Linked DNA regions of Homo sapiens. Each later gene encodes a partner of the first gene's protein in a complex. Each region holds a gene or a part of one and is shown on either strand. Other genes may lie near its edges.

Evidence for each region.
Region 2: DKC1 (region 1) and TERT share a complex: the UniProt entries of both Homo sapiens proteins name them as parts of the telomerase holoenzyme complex.

Annotation. Positions count from the first base shown.
Region 1 is NC_000023.11:154,775,392-154,778,363, forward strand, and holds the end of DKC1 (H/ACA ribonucleoprotein complex subunit DKC1), read left to right. Parts: intron 1-795; coding exon 796-933; intron 934-1,407; coding exon 1,408-1,476; 3' UTR 1,477-2,298; downstream 2,299-2,972.
Region 2 is NC_000005.10:1,281,280-1,285,088, forward strand, and holds part of TERT (telomerase reverse transcriptase), read right to left. Parts: intron 1,346-3,809; coding exon 1,150-1,345; intron 1-1,149. UniProt on the Homo sapiens protein: Telomerase is a ribonucleoprotein enzyme essential for the replication of chromosome termini in most eukaryotes. Active in progenitor and cancer cells. Inactive, or very low activity, in normal somatic cells.

The DNA.
Region 1 (2,972 bases):
TGCAGCGCATACACAGGTAATGCTGCCTCATACCCTGGGGTGCTTGTTTGGGCTCTGCAGGCTCCTCTGATTTGTATTCTCTGTCCTATCTGCTGGGAGGAGGAATGTGGGCTCAGGAATCAGATGGGCCTCGACTCCTACCTCAGCTATGGCAGCAACACAGTGATGGAATGGGTGGTGGTGTGTGTGTCAATTCTGGCCCCCGCCCTGGGTCAAATGGTAGGACAGATGTGTTGAAATCAGAGGCCATGGCTGTTGGACATTCGAGGCCATACAAAATTCAGCAGAGAGCAGAATTGCATCTTAACCTGGCACCACCCAGTGTTGAAAGAGTCAGTCAAGCATGGGTTGGCAACTCCACCCCATGGAGCTGCTGGCATTAGAGCACAGAATGACAGGTCTGCACTCAGAAACCGGGGGCGGTACTGAGTATCCTGCACAGGCTGTGTGGGAGGAGCTTCTGACTTGTCAGATGTGAATTCCTGCTTTGCCTGCTTTCTGTGAGAGGTCCTTGCAGTCATGAGAGAAACAGCTCCTCCGGGCCTTTCCACCCCAAGCCCCGTGCTGCTGCTGTGCTCCTTCTCTTGTGCCTGCCTCAAGGCTTCTTGGATTTGGGGGATGAGACTGTCTTCAAATCCTCAGTAAACTAAGGCCCTGTCCGGGTTTGTAGTCAGAAAACGTCCTGTTAGATTCAGTTGGGATCTTTCTTGGTGCCTTGCTACCTTTTGACTCACTGAACCTTTCTTGTCCATTATTGCCCAAGATCTAACACTTAACCAATTGCTTTCATCTCAGCGGAAGCGAGAGAGTGAGAGTGAAAGTGACGAGACTCCTCCAGCAGCTCCTCAGTTGATCAAGAAGGAAAAGAAGAAGAGTAAGAAGGACAAGAAGGCCAAAGCTGGTCTGGAGAGCGGGGCCGAGCCTGGAGATGGGGTGTGTGGAAACACGTTCAGGTTCCTTGGGCTGGCTTAGTCCCTGCGTGGGGAAAGAATTACCCAGGTGGTACCAGCTTTGTTACTCTTCTTGGAGGAGCTGTGGCCTGGGGGTGGGATGCCACCGAGTGCCTTTAGTGCTTCCCCATGTTCCTGGAGTGCTTTTGCCCTCCCTGTGGAATGGACAGATAGAGGCACCCGACCTCTACCACTTATACTTAGAGCTCTATTGATGGTGGGTGGAGAGGATGTGTAGGATGGTGATCTGAATGTTTCCACTTCCAAAAGTAGACCACTAGGGTGTCACTGAAAGGTTTACAGAACTTTGTGTCACATGCAGCATTTAACCCAAAATATCCTTACAGGTCCTGAAAAAGGCTTGCTTGACTGTGGACCTTTACCAGATTTCCTTCTGGGAGAGTCATAGCTTTGTTAGTGGATGGTATCTGTGAGCTTTCATTCTCTTTCTTTCTAGGACAGTGATACCACCAAGAAGAAGAAGAAGAAGAAGAAAGCAAAAGAGGTAGAATTGGTTTCTGAGTAGTGAAGGCCACTTGAAGCTGGAGGAGAAACTAAAGCCTTATTGAGAAAACATGTTATAGATCCTTTTGTTGCTGAGAGAGTGGAACATAGGTCCTAGACAGGGTGAAGAGTTCTGGCACATTTTAGCTGCTACTTTGAGACCTCGGTGATGTTACCTGGTGTGGTCATCCCATCTTGTCCTGTTTTAAGGATATGGGTGGTGAAAGATGAAAGAGGCAGAGTTTATCCCAATGACTTCTCTGTTTGAGTTGGGAAGCCTCACCTTCAGACCCAGTAACTGTCCGCAGCTGTCTGCTAGTGGTTGTCTTAACATCGTAGTCCTAGTTTGCATTTTTTAAATCCCCTCTGTTTAAAAGGTTTGTAAAACAAAAACAAAAAACTAAGTCTGCTCAGTGAAATGCTGTAGAACCCTAAATAAGTGGTAGAAGAGTGTCACTGAATTTTGTCTCTGAATTCAGTATAACTGAGTTTTGTCCATGCTGGTGTCTGGGTTATAGGCCTGATGGGCCTGGTAGTTTTCCATCTTGTTCTGGCCTAGAGGTCAGTCCTTTGCACTTCCTCAAAGCTTGTGTACAGTGCTCACCTAAATCCATCTGACTACTTGTTCCTGTGCCCTCTTGTTTTAGGCCTCGTTTACTTTTAAAAAATGAAATTGTTCATTGCTGGGAGAAGAATGTTGTAATTTTTACTTATTAAAGTCAACTTGTTAAGTTTTTTATGTATTCCTGTTGGGTTTTCTTGTTGATCTCATGCTAGCAGAGCAAAAATTGTAAAATATTTTGATTAAAAATCTAGGGACCTTTATGTCCTATTTGAAATGTGATGCTTTTATGTTTGTTTTCTGGTTTTTACATTTTTGTTCTGTATCTTACACAATCCACCTTGGGCCCTGTCATCTGATGTGAGATCAAGTACTCAGAGGCAGTGATTACCACAAAACCACTGATCTCTAGAAGAACAGAGAAGGAGAGGGTTAATGTATTTATACATAGTGGGCCTGGCAGGAGCGGGGGGCAGGGTGAGTCGGGAGAACGAAGCTGAGGGTGGGGACATGCAGGAATCTGAAGGCCTTGGTGACAGATTAGTGGAAGAAAGGTCTAGGGTTGCTTCCGATTTGGTATTAAGAACCAAGAAAGAGGCCGGGTGCAATGGCTCACACCTATAATCCCAGTGCTTTGGGAGGCTGAGGCGGGCAGATCACCCGAGGTCAGGAGTCTGAGACCAGCCTGGGCCAACATGGCAAAACCCATCTCTACTACAAATACAAAAATTAGCCAGGTGTGGTGGCGTGTGCCTGTAATCCCAGCTACTCGGGAGGCTGAGGCAGGAGAATCCCCTGGAACCTGGGAGGTGGAGGTTGCAGTGAGCCGAGATCCTGCCACTGCACTCCAGCCTGGCAAAACAGACTGTCTCAAAAAAAAAAAAAAAAAAAAAAAAAAAAAAGCGCTCTTGGATGCAGCGAGGCGAGGCCCTGAGCTGTAGCCATATCATGAGCCA
Region 2 (3,809 bases), on another chromosome or scaffold:
GGAAATGGCCCCAGCACCACGTCGGGGTCCCCAGCCCAGAGGCTGTGTTACCTCTGACGAGGTCTGCTGCCAGCTCCCTCTGCAGACATCCTGATTTGGGGCATGGGGTGTCACAAGGCCCCCCAGGGACTCGAGTGTGCAGGGGAGCTGGGGAAGCCCTGATCTTCTGACTAAAGCCCTCCACAGTCAGCCTGGGCGGGACACGGAGAAGCTAATACCATGGCCTGGGCTCAGCCAGGCTGGCATCTCCCAGACCAGCGCTCCCGTCCCTCACTGATGCAAATCCAGCTTGAATCTGTCACAATCTCACACTCTCATCAGCCGAACATTGCAGACAAAATCTCACAGCCATTCAAATGCAGCCACCTAGAAGTTAGCTCATGGTGGAACTCTCCTATCCCCAGGTGCTCCCTGCACAGGTGCTCCCTGCAGTGAGTCGCCAAGTGGGTGGGATTTTATCCTCTCATGACCTAAATCCAATAGATTGAAGATTCATACAGAACAGCATGAATTAAAAGAGAATCGGGGGCTGGGCACGGTGGCTTAGCCTGTAAACCCAGCACTTTGGGAGGCCAAGGTGGGTGGATCACCTGAGGTCATGAGTTCGAGACCAGCCTGGCCAACATGGTGAAACCCCGTCTCTCCTAAAAGTACAAAAATTAGCCAGGCGTGGTGGCAGGTGCCTGTAATCCCAGCTACTTAGGAGGCTGAGGCTGGTGAATCGCTTAAACCCAGGAGGTGGAGGTTGCAGTGAGCCAAGATTATGCCACTGCACTCCAGCCTGGGCAACAGAGTGAGACTCCATCTCAAAAAAGAAAAAAAAAAGAGAGAGAGAATCAGACCCACATCCCAGGGAAAGGCAAGGAGGCTAGTGGTAGTGTTTCCATCTAATTTAAATCCCTTCTGCTTTACAAACCCTAGAGACCACTTGGCACAAACTCCTGATTTTACAAGTAAGAGAACGTGAGCTCCAGGCAGTCAGAGCCTTGCACAGAATCCACTTGGACCAGGCCTGTGACGGGGCCCCTGGCTCCCAGCCCAGAGCTGCACAGCCAGGGAAGCACAGGCAAGTGGAGACAGGCGCATGCTGAGGCCGGGCTGGTGTTCCAGGACTTCGAGAAGCAGAGGCCTGGCGTGGGGATACAGTACCTGATTCCAATGCTTTGCAACTTGCTCCAGACACTCTTCCGGTAGAAAAAGAGCCTGTTCTTTTGAAACGTGGTCTCCGTGACATAAAAGAAAGACCTGAGCAGCTCGACGACGTACACACTCATCAGCCAGTGCAGGAACTTGGCCAGGATCTCCTCACGCAGACGGTGCTCTGCGGCCGGAACACAGCCAACCCCTTAAACGAGAAGGACATGCCACATCCAGATCACCGAGGGCCTGGTGACCTCACCCCGGACCTGCACCATCCGGACACCGCACATCCAGCTCACCAAGGGCCTGGCGACCTCACCCCAGACCTGCACCATCCGGACACGGCACATCCAGCCCACCAAGGGCCTGGCGACCTCACCCTGGACCTGCACCATTCGGACACGGGGACACCGCATATCCAGCTCACCGAGGGCCTGGCGAACTCACCCCGGACCTGCAGCATCCAGACACCACACATCCAGCTCACCGCAGGGCCTGGCGAACTCACCCCGGACCTGCACCATCCAGACAACACACATACAGCCCACCGCAGGGCCTGGCGACCTCACTCCGGACCTGCACCATCCGTACACTGCACATCCAGCTCACCGCAGGGCCTGGCGACCTCACGCCAGACCTGCACCATCCGGATACAGCACATCCAGCTCACCGCAGGGCCTGGCGACCTCACCCCGGACCTGCACCATCCGGATACAGCACATCCAGCTCACAGCAGGGCCTGGCGACCTCACCCCAGACCTGCACCATCCGGACACCACACATCCAGCTAACCGCAGGGCCTGGTGACCTCACCCCGGACCTGCACCATCCGACACCGCATATCCAGCTAACCGCAGGGCCTGGCGACCTCACGCCAGACCTGCACCATCCGGATACAGCACATCCAGCTCACTGCAGGGCCTGGCGACCTCACCCCGGACCTGCACCATCTGGATACAGCACATCCAGCTCACAGCAGGGCCTGGCGACCTCACCCCGGACCTGCACCATCCAGACACCGCACATCCAGCTAACCGCAGGGCCTGGTGACCTCACCCCGGACCTGCACCATCCGGACACCGCATATCCAGCTAACCGCAGGGCCTGGCGACCTCACCCCGGACCTGCACCATCCGGACACCCCACATCCAGCTCACCGAAGGCCTTGGCTACCTCACCCCGGACCTGCACCATCCAGACACCGCACATCCAGCTCACAGCAGGGCCTGGCGACCTCACGCCGGACCTGCACCATCCGGACACCACACATCCAGCCCACCAAGGGCCTGGCGACCTCACCCCAGACATGCACCATGCAGACACCGCACATCCAGCTCACCAAAGGCCTGGCGACCTCACCCCAGACCTGCACCATCCGGACACGGCACATCCAGCCCACCAAGGGCCTAGCGACCTCACCCTGGACCTGCACCATCCGGACACGGGGACACCGCACATCCAGCTCACCGAGGGCCTGGCGAACTCACCCCGGACCTGCAGCAACCGGACACTGCACAACCAGCTCACCGCAGGGCCTGGTGACCTCACCCCAGACCTGCACCATCCGGATACAGCACATCCAGCTCACAGCAGGGCCTGGCGACCTCACCCCGGACCTGCACCATCCGGATACAGCACATCCAGCTCACAGCAGGGCCTGGCAACCTCACCCCGGACCTGCATCATCCGGACTCCATACCTCCAGCTCACCGAGGGCCTGGCGACCACACCCCAGACCTGCACCATCCAGACGCCGCACATCCAGCTCACAGCAGGGCCTGGCGACCTCACCCCGGACCTGCATCATCCGGACTCCATACCTCCAGCTCACCGAGGGCCTGGCGACCACACCCCAGACCTGCACCATCCAGACGCCGCACATCCAGCTCACAGCAGGGCCTGGCGACCTCACCCCGGACCTGCATCATCCGGACTCCATACCTCCAGCTCACCGAGGGCCTGGAGACCTCACCCCTGACCTGCACCATCCGGACACCGCATATCCAGCTCACAGCAGGGTCTGGCGACCTCACCCCGGACCGGCACCATCCGGACTCCATACATCCAGCTCACCGAGGGCCTGGCGACCTCACTCCAGACCTGCACCATCCAGACACCGCACATCCAGCTCACCGCAGGGTCTGGCGACCTCACCCCGGACCTGCACCATCTGGACACTGCACATCCAGCTCACCGAGGGCCTGGCGACCTCACTCCAGACCTGCACCATCCAGACACCACACATCCAGCTCACAGCAGGGCCTGGCGACCTCACCCCAGACCTGCACCATCCAGACACCACACATCCAGCTCACAGCAGGGCCTGGTGACCTCACACCGGACCTGCAGCATCCGGACACCCCACATCCAACTCACAGCAGGGCCTGGCAACCTCACCCCAGACCTGCACCATCCGGACACCGCATATCCAGCTCACCGCACGGTCTGGCACCGTCTGGCGACCTCACTCCAGACCTGCACCATCCAGACACCGCACACCCAGCTCACCGCAGGGCCTGGTGACCTCACCCCAGACCTGCACCATCCAGACACCACACATCCAGCTCACAGCAGGGCCTGGCGACCTCACCCCGGACCTGCATCATCCGGACTCCATACCTCCAGCTCACCGAGGGCCTGGAGACCTCACCCCTGACCTGCACCATCCA